Regions from separate parts of the Homo sapiens genome. Here region 1 is linked to region 2. Evidence: fine-mapped expression QTL. A gene starts in region 2. The other region holds a variant in brackets. All regions are shown on one strand. Distances are from middle to middle.

Evidence for each region.
Region 1: its variant is fine-mapped to the expression of FOXC1 in whole blood (GTEx, PIP above 0.99).

Annotation. Positions count from the first base shown.
Region 1 is chr6:1,705,288-1,714,782 of GRCh38, reverse strand. The region is part of intron 9 of GMDS (GDP-mannose 4,6-dehydratase); the gene reads left to right. Among named protein-coding and RNA genes, the nearest start is that of FOXC1, 100 kb to the right of the region's middle. The variant A/G (reference allele first, on the strand shown) is at 5,314.
Region 2 is chr6:1,604,538-1,614,032 of GRCh38, reverse strand. It overlaps FOXC1 (forkhead box C1), which reads right to left and starts at 4,118. Exons shown (of 1, transcript NM_001453.3): 1 at 136-4,118. The coding sequence starts at 3,587. The coding sequence ends at 1,926. FOXCUT (FOXC1 upstream transcript) reads right to left here and starts at 8,502. Exons shown (of 2, transcript NR_125804.1): 1 at 8,234-8,502; 2 at 6,675-8,017. RefSeq lists enhancers at 1-406, 3,261-3,360, 6,074-6,583, 6,941-7,441, 7,442-7,942 and silencers at 3,691-4,310, 9,244-9,313, 9,364-9,495.

The sequences.
Region 1 (9,495 bases), 100 kb before region 2:
GCATATGCAAAAGGCATCCAAGGTTGCTTCTGTCTGAAGAGAGTACGACTGCCAACTGGAGGCATTGCCGGCTCTGAGCCTCCATAAGAAATGCCCCATTGTCAGCCACCATCTTTCCTTTACCCACTCTGAGGCTATATTTGTGGAACAAAGTGTCACCTAGCATAAAAGACACTCAGTTCTCTGGCTTTCCCCATGACACGCGTTTCTCTGCTACTCTGAAACTTTCTGAATTACAAAGTGAGAAATAAGTTCTACTCAGTGAATGGCCATCATGGCTGGTATTGGTATCGTGGAACCAAGGTCTTCCGGAAACCTGGTGGCATGATATTCCTTTTTCTCTTCACCTAGAATCTTCAATGTTTTTCTTTTTTTTTTTTAATGTAAGTGCAAAGAACTTAAATATATGATTGTGTAAGATGATAGTCATTTAGAACAACATTTTTTAAATTTCTGAAAAAGTGAGGCCGGGCACAGTGGCTCACGCCTGTAATCCCAGCACTTTAGGAGGCCAAGGCAGGTGGATCACGAGGTCAGGAGATCGAGACCATCCTGACTAACAAAGTGAAATCCCGTCTGTACTAAAAATACAAAAAAATTAGCTGGGCGTGGTGGTGGGCGCCTGTAGTCCCAGCTACTTGGGAGGCTGAGGCGGGAGAATGGCGTGAATCCAGGAGGCGGAGCTTGCAGTGAGCCAAGATCATGCCACTGCACTCCAGCCTGGGCGACAGAGTGAGACTCCCTCTCAAAAAAAGTCTGAAAAAGTGTTGGGCTTATAGAGATTTTCCTAATAAGGTGTACAGTGTCTTCTTCTTTGCACATCCATTTTGGTGGAAAATTCAGTCAAATGCACTAGAATAGTCTTTGGATATGTTTTCTAAAACAAGTATCTAATTCCCACATGAAGAGAAATGGCCTGATTGAGTATGCCTGTCTTACCAAAACTGTTAACTTACAGTGAGGATGTGAAAAAATAAGAACTCAGATAGGCCCGTGGATCAGATGAATAAGAAAAAGAGAAGAGACTATGGATAAAAACAGTTGCTGATTTTCCTTTGAGATGTTTGTGCTTCATGCCGCCAAATTGAGATGAGAGAAAAGCCAATTTCATGCAGTTTGGCACAACTGTAAAATGCAGCACAAACACACGTACGTGTATGTGTGTGTGTGTGTGTGTCCCATTGATCCAAAAAGCCTGTTTGTCTATTGGCAAGACGAAATATTATCTTCATGCATCACCACCTCCTCCTAAAGGTAGGATGGGGATGGCCGTCAGTGCCAATACATTGTCTCTTCTTTCAGCTGGCGGGGGTGGGCAGTGGGAGGGAGCCACGGGGCGGAGACGCAGAGCAAACAGTGCCAGCACTGGATCCCGGCGTGGGCCGGTGGTGGGTGCCAGGAGCAGCCAGGGCCTGTGCCTAGTCGTCACATGTGGTGCTGAGCAACCACCAACTCTTCCCAGGAAGGAGGTGAAAAGATAACACACACTGGAGTCCAGTGGAGGCGAGGACACTTCATCCCACAGGGACCGCAGTGGCCAAGGGAATGGTTTTAATGGTGGTTTGACTTGGCATACTTATGAAAAGGCTAGCGCCCACCCGCTGGCCTGTGGGTTTATTTGGCAAAACATAAAACAGAGTCAGTTGCTTGTCCTTGAGAGTGGCCACTATGGATCTACCACATTTCTGACTTGTCAGTCTGACATCCGTGGCTGGATTCTACATAGTCTTGTGTTGATGGATTTGTTGCTTTGGGAGAAACGCAGATATGATGGCATGGCCTTCTCACTATCTGCAGCAGAAACGGCCTTGTGTCTGCCCCGTGTCCCTGGTCATCCACGGACATTGGTCAGGCTTTCTGATTCACACCACTTTCTCCTCAGCCCTCCAACTAAGTAATATTTATATTGTTCTGCTAACAACCTCTATTGAAATCCAAACTTAATAACCTATTGCTTGCTAGAAATATTCTCCTCTTCCTTTCTGCCTGTTTCATGATCTTGGTTTTTTTTTTAAAGAATTCAACCCTTTTGCTTTTTCCCTTTCTCCATCTTTATAACTTTTTCAGACAATTGAACTTCTGTCTGAACTTCTGAGCTTTCCGATACCCTCATACTTTGTGGTCAGCATCAGAGACATCAAAGTAAAGTGGGTATTTGTTTCAAACCCTGAGTTGATGATAAGCCATTATGTCTGCTGCGTCTTCTCTCCATGTGAGTGACATTTTGCACCCCAGGCTTAGTTATAGGGAGCAAGTTAGGAATGTGTGTTTTGCAGTTTCTGTTGTTTATGTAAACCATCGATATCAGTTTATTCATCTGAAGGAAATAAGAAAAAACACTTCAGTCAAAATAATTAGGAGCTAAGATAAGAACACAGCACTTCAAAGTTCATTTAGCTACTTACATCTTCTACTTTACACGTCATCTCAGCTTCCCTATCTCCTAAGTGAAGGATGATTATGATAAACTTCACAAAAGTAGTGGGAGGTTAAATTAGTGTTTGTGAAGCATGTTGAGATCTTATGATCAAAGATACCGGAGTATTGCAGAATAGTGTGATTACTATCAAAGAAAAGAATTCCTCAAACCAAGAGTCTGGATTAATCTGACTTAATTTTCCAGCATCTTCTGTATCTGACTGAATTTTCCAGCATCTTCTATACCTTCTATATCTGAAGCCCCAAACCTCCAATCTCTTGCAGTTTTCTCGTGATCTTAGAGTCCGTTTCTAAGCATTGAAGAGGGTTAGAGAGTAGGCTGCAGTCATAAACTTGTAAACAGAGGAGAAGTGTTGGGTGTTAATGAAGGCTCAGGCGAGGGGCCGGATGGGGCTTTGGGGGGCATGTTCGGCTGGTGACTGTGCAGTGCTGCTCTCAGCAGCCACCGTTTGGCTGGTGCTCGGGTGGGGCCTTCACTATGCCAGAAAAACTGTCCCTCCACCCAGCTCATTCCTTAGAATCAACAGGGACTTTCATCCATGCTGCACAAAATCGGACGGAAAAGATGGCTTTCCACAAGTTTCCCAAGTCACTTAAGGGGCACGGAAGGGGTATGCAGGCAGCCGGGGTGTCAGAGGCAAAGACAGGCTGATAGCACAGAGATAAGCAAGGTGGATGGAAAACCATACCTAGACATAACGTGTGCAAAAATTGCAGAGTAGTATCTCCAAAATCACAGGCCACAAATACACAGATTTGGTGCAAACTGGCAAAATGAGTTTGTACATTTATTTCCCACCCATGTGTTTCATTTTGCCTGTAATCATCAGAGCTGTTGTGGATGGGTGGGTTACCCAAGTGTTCTTAAAGAGGCAACCCATTTCTTCTCAGGCAATACTACTACTTTAAGCAAAACCGCAGGCATCCTTTGTCAAGGGTGGCTACCCTAGTCCATGGTTCTTAAGCCTAGTACGTCAGACTCATCCAGAAAGCTGTTGAAAATACAGTCTTCCAGGATTCATCCTCAAACCACTTGAGCGGTGGACCCTGGAAACGTAGGACTCTGCAGGGATCCTGAGGCAGCCGGCTCTGAGGCTGGCCAAGCCTCGGTAAGTGGGGGCAGCTGTGCCCTGGGCTGCAGTCAGGGAATGATGCACACAGTTGGGTTGTCCCTAACCTTGTTGGTTTCATTCACCTCTTGAAGAATTAGATAAAAGCTGATTCCCCCCAGGGGAAAATGCTCAGAATACATCATGTATGTAGTTGTAGGGAATTGTGCCTGTCCAGCTGTCCATGCGGAGAAAACAAAGCTGAACTGCCAGGTCCGGCTCCTTTCTTCTCCAGCCCCAAGTTTTTGCTTGGCTTGGCACATCCTTTCATAGGTGTACGTATTTTGTAAATGTTCATGTCCAGTGATTAAAACTGTCATTGGTATAATTTCTGACGATATGTAGTCAACCCCTTCACAAGTCTGTCGTTAAGCCCTCCACAAACTCACAGGGGTGCTTTGGAAGAGCTTGACATCCGCCCTCCCCAATGGAACATAAGAGCCATTCACACCCCCGCCCTGCAAGGGAGGGTGTGCTTAGGACCTGGACATTGAGCTTGGCAGTATCACCAGATCATTTACCGATTGAAGTTAAATTGATGATAGAAATGTAGACGTCAAGATTTTTGTGCCTAGGTAGTCTCAGCTTCCCTGACCCCATCCTCGGAGAGCTCCAGGTCTAGGGGGACCATTCCCAAGGGGAACCTCAAAAGTGTATCTGCCATGTCAGGGCAGACGTGTGTTTTGGTTGTTTTTGGTGAAGCCCCAGAGGGCATTGTCCCTACACAGTTCTCTGATAGGCGGAAGCTCCATCAGGTCTGACCACAGCCTGGTTATACCACGGCAGGTCCAGAGCAGGTGGCTGCTCAGGGTTTAGGGACTGAATGAATGCCGCAGACGTGGAAAAGAAAATCAACTAGCTGTTTTAGGCATCTGATCAATCAGTGTGATTGGTTTCTTTACCAAGTTGATGAGTAGATCTGCTGTGTTCTCAGCAGTAATGTGGTTAAGCTTCTCAGGAATATACACATACACAAATGTTTTCCCCGGTCTGGTGGAGGGTAGTAATAAAAAGCAGAGCATTTAGAGACAAAGTCAACTTGACAGGCAGAGTGGAGGTAAACAGTCTTCCTCTGCAGGAGCAGTGTTGACAAGCAGTGATTCTTGGGAAGCGTACAGCTGTAGCACGGGCTCTGACTTCAGGGACTTCAGCAGTATAAAAACAATTTTTAAATACCCAAAGTCATTTATTTTAAGTGTACTTGTATGGTTTGGGGTTTTATGTTATCGGTTTATATATATGTGTGATTTTTATTAACTATTTCCAGAAATAATTCTGCAGTTAAGCCAAAAGCTGCTGCATGAAGCAAAAACTCTTCCTCCATAGATACCCTGCCTCAGTCGAGTTAGGCAGGTTTAGCCCAACCAAAGGACTGTATTTGTTGAGAGAAGAGACATTTGTTTTCTCCCCAAACTTCAAGCTCTGGTTTTGAAACATAACTCTCAGTCCCATCTCTAAATCCTAGTTACAGCATTAATTCTCAATAAGTTCTTCTTTTTGCACGTACTCTCATGTAAGCAGCAGTCTAAATAGCCATGTAAGGGCAGCCAGAGGAGTGGGTTTGTGCCTTGGGGAACAGAGGAGCCAAGGCCCACCCACGTTACTTGTCCACTTCTCCTTCCATCTGTGACAATCAGCTCCAAGCATTAAGGGCTTCTCCTGGTCCTGGGGGCCAGGCAACACGTCACCTCTGAGATGTTGGCCTTTGCCACCGTGGCTTCTCCAGCACAGAGCCTCATTGTCACTTCCTCCAGCTGCTCAGGGA[A/G]CATGATCTTCACTGTTGTCATGTCAGATGAGGAAATTGGGCCACCAGGAAGCCGAGTGACTTGCCCAAGGTCACGCTGTGTGCTAGTGGCACAGCCAGTTTCCAGGCCGTGCTCCCCCACGAAGCCTCTGCAACTTTCCTCCCAGATCACGTGCACTGGGTCACCCAAAAACTTTGCCCTTCTGCACATTAGCCTCTAAGGACAGCTGCTCTAAGCACTTTCTAGCCAGGCCCCTCAGCAGCAGCACTACAAGGGTGGCTGGCACTCTGGTTCTGTAGACACTGTCTCCTGCCTTTTCTCAGTGCTGCAGTGGGTGTATCTGCACCTACTTAATGGTCTGAATCTATAAACCAGCAGTCAGACACCTGCTGTGCATTCAGGGGACATAACCTGTCATGCCTACCTGTGGAGCTGAGTCAGTGTACACGGTTCTCGGCAATCAGGGGACATCAGACAGCTGCACCCTCTTTTCCAGTGACACAGGCACCAGGTATGAAGGCTTTGAGGGATTTTCTGGAAGTAGGAAGGGTCAGGGCCCAACTGAACATGTCACCACAGCACCTGACAATGGCTTTTTGTCCTTTTAGTGTATGACTGGACACACTTACTTACCATGTAAAGGTGCTTCTTTTTTACATTTAAAACCCAAAGCTGTGAGATGCAGCGTACAGAGACGTGACCCCGGTTGGCCTTTTGCTGTTTCAGATGGCAGTACTCAGAGGAACGCCAGCCAGGCCCAGAGGCCCCCGGCGCTCACTGGCCTTTCTTTCATGTGCCCTTGGAGTTCTTAGAATAGACTATGAGATTTTAATTCAAAAGGAATATTCTACCAGCAGTTTATAATAGGCATGGTTTGAGGAAAACCCAAACCTGCTTTTCCCAAGATCTAAACCATTTGATGCACCAGTTATCTGATGCAGTGGGGCTCTCGCCCGATCCATTCTTTGGAGCTACACCATACTCGATTGTGCGGTGACTGACTTAGCCCCGGGCAGTTCAGACTTGGACCCACCGTGTGGCATGTTTGTCCTCGTTGCTGTTGCTGTATTGACAACGCCTTCAGAGGTGGTTTCGAGTGCAAGCCCCCTACCCGCCTTCCCTCCACTCCTCATCTGCCCTCCAGCTTCTCCAAACACGCTTCGCTGCCTGCTGGGAATGCTGCCTTGCAAAGGAGTGACGTCTCAAGTGTCGGGAAAGTTACAGCCTTCGAGTTGTTTCCTTCCCTACCTTTGAGATATACCCAGATGCCGCATTTTGTTTCACGCTTTTCTGTGGATGGTGAGCAAATGGCTGATTCTTTATGGCCCTCAGAGCCCCAGGAGGGTGTGGACAAGCACCTTTCCCACTTGATACTTCTGGATATTTCCTTTCTATGCCATTAAAATCGGATGAGTGCTGTATTTGTTTTTTGTTTATTTGTATTTCATTTATTTATACCTTACCTTACTCCAGAAAATGTTTAATAACGCATGTGAATAGTAAGGATGTAGCCTAGTTTGTGAAGTCTTTGGTGCAACAACAGATTTGGTACTTGAAAACCTTTTTCTCCCAGAAAGCGTGTTTTAAATGATACGAGGGCCCCAGCCCTGCCAACACAAGCCTATTTTCCCAATAACATGCCTGAAATACTAATGAAAATATTTTAACTGCGTCTAGTTACCATATGTAAAATTGCTTTCAGTGCAAGCGCACTTTCCAACGTCCAAATCTGGGTGCTACTCACATGTGTCTTTCAGAAGAGTGGGTGAGTGGCAGAGCTCCTCCCAGGCCTGTGTGTGGTGGGCCATGCCAGGCTGCCTGGGAGGAGGAAGGTGGGGAGCTCCTCCCAGGCCTGTGTGTGGTGGGCCATGCCAGGCTGCCTGGGAGGAGGAAGGTGGGGAGCTCCTCCCAGGCCTGTGTGTGGTGGGCCATGCCAGGCTGCCTGGGAGGAGGAAGGTGGGGAGCCCACCTCCATCTGGTTGCTCACCCTGGACAACGCCATGGAGGAGAGGGCTCTGGAGCAGGGCCTTTGAGAGAGTGTCCTATGATTACTTCTCTCAACTGTGTGGCTGTTCAGTCTGTCACTGAAGCCTTTCCTCCCCTCTTCTGTGAGACCAAGAAGTATTTCTGAGCAATACATAGATAGATGGATCAACAGATAGATATTTTTAAAAATCAGAATATTTTCAGCTCACATTTTGACCTCAAAACCTTATGACTTGGTTTTGCTTCCTTAAAGTCACATTAAAAAGTATGGTTAGCAGAGACGTGGTTCTGGTGAGCACAATGGAGATGTAATTTTAATTCCTTCTATTCACAACCAACACTAATATTGAAATTTTGGGTAAGCAACATTTGAGAGGCACTGAAACTTGAGATTCACTTAACTGCTAAAATACTACTCTGTTATCCACAAACTACCAGTTATAAATGTTTCCGTGCCTGATTCAGTTGACAGCAAGAGACTTCGGAAGGCTATAAGTTAGGAACCAGTATGAGATGCCAAATGCTTCCTTGCCTTCCCGAAAATACTGCCATGAGAGTAGGCCTTTAAAGCAATTTCCTTCAGGTTTAGAGATCTGTTCGACAGCATAGTGTCCAACCATAGGGGATAACTGAGCACAGTCCTTCCAAATGCCACCATGCAGCAAATCCATTAAAGTCCGTGTCCATTCAGACTATGGAGTAGTAGCTCAGGGAAGTGTCTGGGATAAAATGATGGGTGAAAAAAGAAGCATAAAAATGCGCAAACAGTATGATCACAACCATATAAGGAAACCTACACACAGGTGAGCAAACGCTGGGAATCAGCCACGTGCTGCGGACGCCTCGTGCTCCCAGCCTCGTTCCAGCAAAACTGTTAACAGCAGTGTTGTGTTCATGATGGGCCTGCGAGGGGTTCTCCTCCGCTGGTTTGTGTTTTCCAAATGTTCATTAGCGAACATGTGTGACTTTACAACAAAAAGAAAACAGTGGTGAAGTATGTTAGTCAGACTTCAGCATCGTTCTCATCAGTTAGAATAAAGAAACGCATGAGGAAAGAGACAAGTATTTTTCACAGGCCTCAGGTTAGAACACATGGGCAGAACAGCATGGACACTTCCCTTGACTCCCCTGTTTGCCTTGCTGCCCCCACCTCTGATCAGTCACTAAGCCTGTGCTGCTGCCTCTGGAGTGCCTGCCTTTGTGGCTTACTTCTTGTATTCCTGCCTCAGCACCTGCCCACCACCTCCCCTCAGAATCATCAGCTGTGCCGCGATGGTGCCAGCACACCGCACACATCTGATCATACACAATATATACATCTGATTAATATACAAAACCATAACAACCCTTGAGAATCGAAATGAATGAAAATCTGTTCACTTCATTCATTGCCCCAACAATTTGAGGCCTGCCCGCTATAGTACCAATCATTCTATTTCCTCCCATATTAGTTCCAACTTCCAGGCACCTTATCAACAACCGGTTAATTGCTATTCCACAATGACGAATTCAACTCACCCTAAAACTTCTTCAGGGCTTAATGCCCCCCAGATGCACCTGTTCTTGCAAGGGCCTTCCTGCTGCGCCGCCACCCTTCTCATTGCTGTGTGGGTCTAGCCCCAGATTGCTGGGTGCCCAGCCGCCTGCCAGGACTGCAACTTGATGGTCATTCCTGCCCTCCCCAGTTCCCAAACTCTCCTGAAGCTACCTCTCCTCCTCCCTCAGGTCTCAGGTTTACTGGAACTTCCTCTGGAAAGTCCTCCAGCTTCCCAGGAGTGAGCTAGACGTTCTCTCTTCTGTTGCCATGGACACCCACACTTACAGCCCCACACCATGCGCAGTCCATTATCCGTGATTCCAAAATCCAAAGAGCTCAGGGAAAATCAAAACTTCCCTTAAAACCCATTCTCCTACAAAATCTGGCCCAACCTGACACAAGACTAATTATGTAGTCTGTCTTCTTATCACTTACTGTAACTGTTCATACATTTTGCTGAAGGAATATTCACGTTTGATTATGGTGTGCTGGCCAGATGGTGCTGGGGCTGCTCAGAAAGATGGGATTAGGGTAACTACAAACTTACCACCTGCCTATCGAGAGTACAAGGGGCAGGGGACAGAGGCAGCACCAGGACAAGCCTAACTCAGCCTGTCCTGGCAGCACAGGGCAAATGTCCACCTGTGTGTTTTGTGCCCATCACCTTGTGTCTCTACGA
Region 2 (9,495 bases):
AAACGGGGCCGTGAGGCCACCCCCAGCCCGCCTGCCCCGAGGAGACACCCGCGCCAGCGCCGCTGCGATCTTCCCGGCGATTAGGTTACGACCCTGGGGGAGGGGACCGAGCGAATCACAGGCCACGTAGAGCAGTTTTTGACTGAAATTAAAGTGTATTTATTTGCAGCAATCCTTTAACAATGATCAAATTTTGACAACAAGCAACAGCAATTACTGCTTAAGTGTTGCCTCTAGATAGGAGCGGCAGATAGCAGGAAACTGTATTATCTCCAAAACAAACTGCAAGCCCCCCACCCCCCCGAACGTCTGTAATCAAATCGCCATCTCCCCAAAGTCTGATTGGCAGGGCAGATCACCCTAAGATAATGAATTTATTACATTTCCTGGGTTATTTACAAAAGGGGGAGGGCCAATCCGGATTGTCCCCTAGGTTTAACTGTAAATTAACAAGAAAAAATGGTTTAAAAAGAAACCACCCTAGACCAAAATGTTCTGCTCCTCTCGCCTTCCTTCTTGTTATTGCTTTAAATCTTTTTCAAAAATAATTGTTCTACAAACATATTTTCTAAAATAGTTTCTCAAAGATTAAATATCCCTTTCCAACCCGCAGTATATTTTTAAAAAAGCAATCCTTCTATGTAATACATGAAGGATTGTAAATGGGGGAGAATTATATACATACATTTAAAAACTGGTTTATTTTTCCTTTTATAAAGGACTGAAATAATAGGAAAATATCTATTCAGCATCTGGCTCACAGGGATGTATAATATGCACTGCAATTTTATATGGAATACACAAGCCAAATATTTATCTGTGCATATCTGGCCGCACAGTCCCATCTCTCGGCACACAGGCATCACCGTGGTAAGACCGCGGCTGATTCATGGGCTTAAAATTTCCGAATCATGGACTGTCATTAGTGAGAAAACGTATTTGTTTATATGCCAACTCCAATCTGTTTAGAAAAATATCTTTTTACTAGCCTCAAAGCAAGCTGACTATATAGTACATTTTGCAGAAGATGCTGCAGGAAAATAAATCTAAACAAAAAGACTTTTAGTAAAATTTGACATGGACTAGTCAGAGGGTTTCTCCATTTTTCAGAGATTTAGGTGGAGAATAGGTAACTTCTAGTGTTTTATCTCTGAAATCTTTTTTCGTAATAATTAAAGCTCTATTAAAGTATCCAGACATATAGGTCTCATTCAAACTGAATGGTAATTTATTAATAAACAAACAATGAATATGTTCAACAAAAAGAAAGAAAAGAGGATAGAATAAGATTAATACAGTTTCCCTTTTTATAATGAGAAAAAAAGCACAATTTAAAGTTTCAGGCAATTTAACGTCAGGTTTTGGGAACACTTTCTGGCGTTTGGTCCACGACATCCAACTACAAATTAAAAATAAATTACTATGTTGCAATTTACATTTTAAAACAAGTCCATGAATAAAAAGAAAGCGACTTTCATAAACGGGGACTTTCCCCCTCCCTTCAACATAGGATAAAATAATATCTTACAGGTGAGAGGCAAGGAAGAAGGCAAGAGAGGGGAGACGGGAGGAGGGGAAAGCAGGTCTCTGAAAAGCAAGAAGAAACTTACGTGTTATCTGGAGTAACACTGTCCTTTAATAAACCAAGATTTTGCTGTCTCTGTATAAAACAGTTTACGGGTTTGTTTATTTAGACAAGGCAAAGTGGAGGTGGCTCTGAATTAATCGGTTAAGAAAATAGAGTTTTCTTCGTGCTGGTGCTGGTGAGCTGAATTTTTGGAGGGATATTCTGTTCGCTGGTGTGGTGAATATTCTCAGGGGTTTTTTTTAATTGGATTTTTTTTTTTTAGTTTCGATTTTGCCTTGATGGGTTCCTTTAGCTTTTCCTGCTTTGGGGTTCGATTTAGTTCGGCTTTGAGGGTGTGTCAAAACTTGCTACAGTCGTAGACGAAAGCTCCGGACGTGCGGTACAGAGACTGGCTGGAAGGGAAGGCCATTTGACAGCTACTATTCCCGTTCACTGGAGAGTTGTTCAAGCCGATCCTCTGTGACTCGAACATCTCCCGCACCGAGTGGAAGTTCTGCTGCTGGCCCGGGTAGCCTGCGGCCGCCGCCGCCGCCGCCGCGCTCGCCAAGTGGCCCAGGTCTCCGCCCGCCTGGTTCAGGTACCACGAGGTGAGGCGGCCTTGGTGGGCCGCAGGGTGGTGGCCGGCCTCCTGGCCTCCCCCGCCGCCGCCGCCGCCGCCGCCGTGACTCAGGGACGACGAGCTGCTGCTGGTGACCGGAGGCAGAGAGTAGTCGGGCAGGGGGTCGTCCACGGCCGAGCCGCCCGCGCCCCCGGGCGCGCCCTGCAAGTGGCCCCCGCGCTCGCCGGCCGCGTACAGGCTCATGGCTTGCAGGTTGCAGTGGTAGGTCCCGGCGCCGCCCGCGCCCCCCGCGGCCCCCGCGCCGCCGCCGCCGCCGCCCGAGCTGCCCGCGCTGGAGGTCTGGCTGCAGGGGGAGCTGTAGAGGGAGCTCTGGCCGGGCGAGTAGGCGCCGAGCGCCAGCGGGGGTGCGATCCCCGCGCGCGAGGACGCGGCCGCCGAGGCCAGAAGGCCGGAGCTGAGCTCCGCGGCCGCGCTCTGCGGCGACCCCCGCAGCGACGTCATGATGTTGTCCACGCTGAAGCCCTGGCTATGGTGCGGCGGCGGGGCGGAGGGCGCGGGCGGCGGCGGCGCGGAATCCGCACCGTCCAGGCTGAGCGGCCGCGCCGACGGCAGGCTGCCCGGGGGGCTGCTCCCGCTGGACAGGCTGCTGCTGCTGCTGTCGGGGCTCTCGATCTTGGGCACCGCGGCGGCGCTGCCGCTGCCCAGGGCGGCGGCCGGGGACAGGGGCTGGGGCGGCGAGGGGCACGTACCGTTCTCGGTCTTGATGTCCTGGATGCGCACGGGCGGCGGCTGCGGACCGGGCGCGTTGCCGTCGGCCTGCTCCGGCGGCGCGGGCGGGGGCTGGCGGCCGGGCGGGGGCGGCTCCTTGAGGTGCAGCCTGTCCTTCTCCTCCTTGTCCTTCACCGCGTCCTTCTTCTTGAAGCGCCGCCGCCGCCGCAGGAAGCTGCCGTTCTCGAACATGTTGTAGGAGTCCGGGTCCAGCGTCCAGTAGCTGCCCTTGCCCGGCTTCTTGTCGTCGCGCGGCACCTTGACGAAGCACTCGTTGAGCGAGAGGTTGTGGCGGATGCTGTTCTGCCAGCCCTGCTTGTTGTCCCGGTAGAAGGGGAAGCGGTCCATGATGAACTGGTAGATGCCGTTCAGGGTGATCTTCTTGTCCGGGGCGTTCTGGATGGCCATGGTGATGAGCGCGATGTAGCTATAGGGCGGCTTCACCATGTCCTTGGGCTGCGGCTGCGGCGTGTAGGGCCCGTAGGCGCGGGCCATGCCGCCCGGGTACTGCTCGGCGTGCGCAGGGTGCGAGTACACGCTCATGGGGGCCGGCATGGCGGTGTAGCCGCCCCCGGCCGCCGCGGCCGCCGCGCGGTAGTAGCTCTGCTCGCCGCCGAGGTAGGGCACCACTCCCAGGGAGTTGGGGCTGGACACGGAGTAGCGCGCCTGCATGGCCCCCGCTCGCCGCCGCCCCGCGCCGCCCGCCGCCCCCCACCCTCGCTCGGGCCGGGCCGCGCCGCGCCGGCCGCCGAGTCCGAGTCCGGGCCCGGCCGAGCTGGTGCCGGCCCGCTGCGCTGTGCGTCCGGCTGCGCTGCCGCCTCTCCCGGCGCTCGCTGGGGCTGGCTCCTCCGGCGCCTCGGGCTACCTCGGGGCCCGCGCGGCCGCGAGGCGGGGTCGCTGCGAGGGGAGAAGGCCGGGCCCGGCCGCGGCAGACCGCCTTGCAGGAACTCGCGGCGCAGCTTCCAGGCGCAAACGGGGGAAAGCAGACAAAAAGAAAGAACAAGCAGGCGCCCTTCTCGCCACACTGCCTGCGCCTTCCAGGAGACTCTGCCCTGAGCTGCCGGCGAAGGCGGCCAAATAACCAGGGCGGGGGGGGGGGGGGCCGCGCGCCGGCCGCCTGCCCGGGCCCCGCGTCACCTTTTCTCGGTCTCTCGCGCGCCAGCCGCTTAAGGAAGCATTGGGAAAACTTCTGAACTTTTGAGCATCCGTCACCCAGGCGAGGACTTTTTTACGCAGTTACACTTTTTTCCGGGCAGCGGAGCCCCGCCCCGCCAGCGGCGGCAGCCAATGGGAGGTGAGAACCGCCTCCGAATGAGCCGGAGGCCGAGCCCTGCCGGCCCGCTCCCGGAGGCCGGAGGACCGCGGGGCTGACCACACGCGCGCCGGCCGCCCTGGCCCGGGCCCCGGCCCTGCGCCCGCGCCGGCGCCCGGCCCGCCGTCGGTTCGCCCCCCGCAGTCCACCTGCCTGCCGCCGGCGCCCGGCAGACCTCCCACCCCGGGCCCTCCGGACCCACGCCCGCCGTTCGCGCAGACTTCCTGGGTCCTCCCGGGACCCCGTGCAGACCCTTCCTTCGCCCACGGCTCCCGAGTGGCCCTGGCGTCTCCGCCCCGCCTCGTGCTGGCTCGCTCTCATTCCTTCGCCAGCCCCGCCGACGCCAGCGCTGGGGTTGCCCCAGCCTCTCCTCCCCGCCGCCTCTCCCCTCCCGCAGCCCCTTCCCTCCCTTCTCCAACGCCAGTCTCACTCGGGTCACTGACGTCTCCGGCTTTTCTCCACTTGGAGGTTCTCCTGTCCTGAACTCGGCTACAAAGGACATGATTTTGAGGGCTCGGTCACAGCCAGGCCCTGCTCGCGGTGGGGAAGAAGGTTCGTCGCCCATCTGGCCCCCCTCCATGACCCCTCCCCAGCCGAAATGAAGGCAAGGGGTGCGGGGCCCTGCTGGGAGTTTCCGACGGCCGTTCACCCGCGAAGGATGAGCCCGCCCCGCTGCGGGCCGCCCTGCTTCTCGCCCCCCTCCCCGGGGGGCCGGCCCTTGGCGGCCTGAGGGTGCGGGCGGCGAGGGCTGCCGGAGCCCGGCTGCTGCCCCGCGCTCCCCTGCCCGCCCGCGAGGGTCCCACCGGCTCGCCGCGCCGCCGCCCCCTCTGATCCCGTCAGGCCCGTTTCGGCTCAGATGAGGGGTCAGGCTGCGGGCTCGGTGACATTAGCAGGTGTGATGACAAGAAGCAAATAAATATGTCTAAGAGCTTAACGCTTCCCCAGGCCAGTCTCCATCTCCACATGCGCGGGGCTGCCGGCTCGCAGAGACAACGGGTGTGTCTGGGGGAACGTCCAGGGTCGCACCTAGAGGGCGGTTCAAGGATTCTGGGGGGACACGCACGGAAGGGCCCCCGCTCGTTGTGCACACGCCTGAGATTCGCCGTCGCTGGGTGGTTGGAATGGGACAGGAAGAAGAGAAATGAGGGAAAGAAACGAAGGAGCGGGAAAGAGCCAGGCCTCCCTCCCCCGGCACGGCGATTCTGCATTTTAGCGACTTGAGGAGAGACCCTCCCGGAGGCTGAATCCCAAGTCGTTCACTAGAAGCTGGGGGAAGTGGCGAGCTCAGGAGACTGCGAAGAAGCGTGCGTGACGCATTTAACAGCTCCGCTGCCCCTGATTTCCGACCATCTATTAAATCCAAGGACATGTTCGGGACCCCTTTTGTCTCCCCGGTTCGAATCCCGGCTTCCTCACGTTGGCAGGAAAATTCAAATTGCAGCTTCGGCTGTTACATGTGAAGGACGCTGACGTGTAGCAGGCGCATCTCCGTGTCACCTGAATATTTAAAAATTACTGTTTCATAATGGACATTGACATCGAAGGAAAGAGGACCTGCCTCTTCTAGAATTAGCCTTTGGAGGAGGGAGGGTTGCCCCGAGGTTGCTCTGAATCCCGGGGCAGCTGCCTCCTGGCCTGCTGTGCGCCGGGGTCTCTGGAGACTCCTTTTCCAGGTGGTTTGCGGGCCAAGTCACTGGTGGGTTGGAGAAGCACCAACAGGAGGCTCAGCACTTGCTGGTTGCCAAGGACACTAGACAGGGGCGAGGGTGGTGGTGAAGCCCCAGGACCTGAACACTTAATTCCTGTTCAGCCCCCAGCCCGGCACCCTGAAGGTCTTATCAGCCCGCCTGGTCGAGGCTTTAAGGAGTGCTGTGGCTTCAGCCTGGAGGAGATTTAAGTGGTCTCCCTGAACACCTCAGCAAGTGGTGAGTTCGGTCTTGAAGCTGCCTTTTACACTGCTAGCGGTGCGCGGAGATGAACGCAGCGATTACGGATGCTTTGTTTTCCGAATGCGGGAAACGCCTTCGGCCCCGAGTTTTGCAACAGGCAATGGTGCCCCGCTGCCCCCTCCCCCACCAGCCTGTCGCCTCCTGCTCTTCCCTGCCTCCTCCCTCCATCGGCCCAGTGAAGTGTAAACAGCTTGTTATGTAAATTGCAAATCGACCTGCAGCGGTGTTCTCAGCTCTCCGTTTTGGGTATAAAAGTCGCCGTTGTGAAATTAGTGTCTGGCGTGCGAGAAAAAATGGAGGGACGTAGTTTTATCAAGATCAACTTTCCACTGGTTTAGCTCTGGATATTCGCCAGGAAAAGATATTTGCATTTGTGTTTTATAAACTTACTCGGAAGCAAGCCTCCAGTAAGCGGCTTGATTGTATTTCAAGCACTTTTCTTATTTCATTTTTGTTGTTAGTGGTGTTATTTGAACATTAAGACGCAGGCATGAAGTCTTTTGGGGAACAGGTTAAAGCTTTTATTTTCAGGTTACAGTTTTTGATGCCCCTTTCTGCTACTCCACGGGGTACTTCAATCATCCGCTTCCGCACATCTCTTGACTCATTTGGCAGAAGAGCCCCCACGGGAACCCTTCGGCTTCTTTTCTGACACCTCACGTACTTGCAGCCTGAAGGCCCCGCAGGCGACAGCGGTAATGGATGTTTGGTGGAACCCTCCCTGGGCCCACACTCCGCCCCTCCCCAGCAGGCCGGGCAACAATTCCCAGGGCCCACCGAGGGGTGCTTAGCTCGGAGGAGGGGGAGTGACGTCACAGCGATGTTCAAAACAAGGCCTCCCCTGGCCCCACCATAGAAAAGCACCAGGAAGGGGAATGTGGCGAGCACTCCAGGAAATGCTCGGATTGGGGACCAGGTGACACTGTAGGAATGTGTGTGCTGGGGGATGGGATGGTGTCCTAAATATGGGTCACCAGGAGCCAGAAGGAGCTCTCTTTTTTCTTTTTCTTTTTCAAGTAAAGCAGAGGAGGTGGAGATTGGGATGGGGGCAGTCCGGAAAAATCACTCCCTAGGGGTGTGAGCTTAGCTCGTGTTGTGCGGATTGTCCCCGTCACAGCCCAATCACCTCTGTGGTGTGCCTAGACGCCCTCTCCCTTACCTCCCCGCTTTCTGGCTTCTCCATCCTCTGGGCTCTGGGTTCAGCCCTGAAAGCCGAACTGTGGGCTGCAGTGGGGAGGCGAGGGCAGGTAGAAACCAGCTTCAGGGGGGGCTCCACCTGGCCCAGGAGCTGGGGGACAACAGAAAAGGCAGGCTTAGGGCATGAGGGAAGGCGCTTCTCCTGCTGCACTGGGGCAGTGATTCCTGGGGGCTCTGCACACACAGGAGGGAGGCTGCAAGTCCACAGCTGCTTTAGCATCTTTCCCTTTGCTGGGGCAGACAGAGTGGAAGATTAAGGCAATTAACCCCAGAGGGCCACTAGAAAACTGTCCACTAGGCTGCCATCACAGACCACTGGAGCAAGGTCCGCTTGGGGATGTCTTTGAGCTTTTTAGATTACTTAGATAATTGTCTTAGTTCTCCATTCGGCCTCCTTTGCTTAGACCAGAATCCCAGGGGTAGGGGAGGATATCCTTGCATCAATGCCCGGCATTCGTTTTCAAACCACCAGGCCGGCAGGCAACGTTAGTCATCGGTGCGACTTTTCAGCGGAGGAAGGAGTGGGGACCGAACATCTGGGTGGCCGCGACCTTGGGCAGATACTCCTTAGCTGGGGGATTTTCAAGTAGAGGATTTGTCAGCACAGTCCCTCCAATTCAGCCCCGTCCTTAGTAGAAAAATTTCTACAATAAACGAAAAGAGCGTTTGGTTTTCGATTGTTTTAAAGACAAAGTGATCCATATTGCCTGTCTACATGGTTGGATTAATCCGATAGTTGCCCTCCTGGGGGCAGACCTCCACGGGAAGTTTGTGTGATGGGATAATTTAATGTCATCTAAGTCCCCTGGAGGGGCGGTTCCCCTAACTACTCACCCAGGAGAAAGCCAGCCAACACCTACCTGATCGTTCCCGCCTCGGGATGGCCCACCTATCGCCCCTTGGCAGGAAAGCCCCCGCCTCGAAGGGCGTTTCGGGGGCTCAGAGCCGAGCTAAGCTGCAAGAGGGGGCCATGGGGAATGCGGGAAGTGAATCTTTAACTTTGGTGCCCGGCTTCAAAAGACTCAGGGCTTCTTGTGTTCAGGCAGAGGTAAATGGAGATTCAAACTGTCGTCTTGCATTAACAATCCGGAATAAAAATAAAATTCGTAAAGGGATAGATGATCGGAAAGAACAAATGGTGCATGTGTGCGCGAACGAGCCCCAGTTTCTCTCCATCCAGGTCCCCAGCGGACTCAGAGCGGCCGCCGCACTCCACGGCCTGGGAGGACAGAGGCCCCGCAGCCTCCCAACCTCGGCTCATGTGGGGGGCGCGCCGCGCAGGGTGGGCGAGTCCCCAGGCCCCAGAGTCTGCCGGAGCCAGGGTGCGCGGTGCGGCGGGAGCCGGCCGTCGGAGGACTGCAGGGCGAAAGCGCCTTCCTGGGGCTGGAGCAGAAGGCGTGTGCCCCTGCACGGACGCGCCTTGGCTGTGGGTGTGGGAAGAAAGGCTTTGCCCCGTGAGACAGACCCACAGACAGCCCCGGAGCCGCCGGCGGGGTGAGGTGGGCTGCAACCTTGCAGGTGGCTGGCTGTTCCCAGGTCTCCGGCCCGGCGCCGCAGCGGACCCAGGCGCCGGGGCCGCAGCCAGCCTTCCTTCCGAGTGCTCCCTTCGCGGAACCCTGCGCCCTGGGACCTTCCTTCCGACGTCCCTCACCCCGGCCGGGGAGTGGCACCAACGCGGACGCACCGCCGGGCCTCCTGCGGGTAAGGCGCGGTCGGCCCCCAGCTCTGAGCCTTCTGGGCAGGAGCCCCGGGGGCCTGGGCCGGGGCCGGTGTTTGCACCTCTCAGGACAGGGACAAGGCCGACACCCGGCTCGGTGCAGCCGGCCTCCCCCGAGGACCTGAGGGCCGACGCCTCCGGGAACCGCTGGTCCTCGCGAGTGGGTCGGCGCCTGGCAGCGCGCGCCGGTGACCTGGTGGTCCGTCTGCTCCCAGGCCGCCCCTCACAGGCTTCCCGCCGCTTCCCCGCGAGCGTCAGCAGAAAAAGGGACGATGTGGAAGCCCGGAGGCCCCTTGGCCGACCCAGGCTGGGGCTCTCAGGCTGGGGGCACCTCACCCCGGCAGGTCCCGCGCCTCGGGAACCCGGGGCCAGGCAGCCGTCCTGGGCGCCCGCACCGCGCACTGC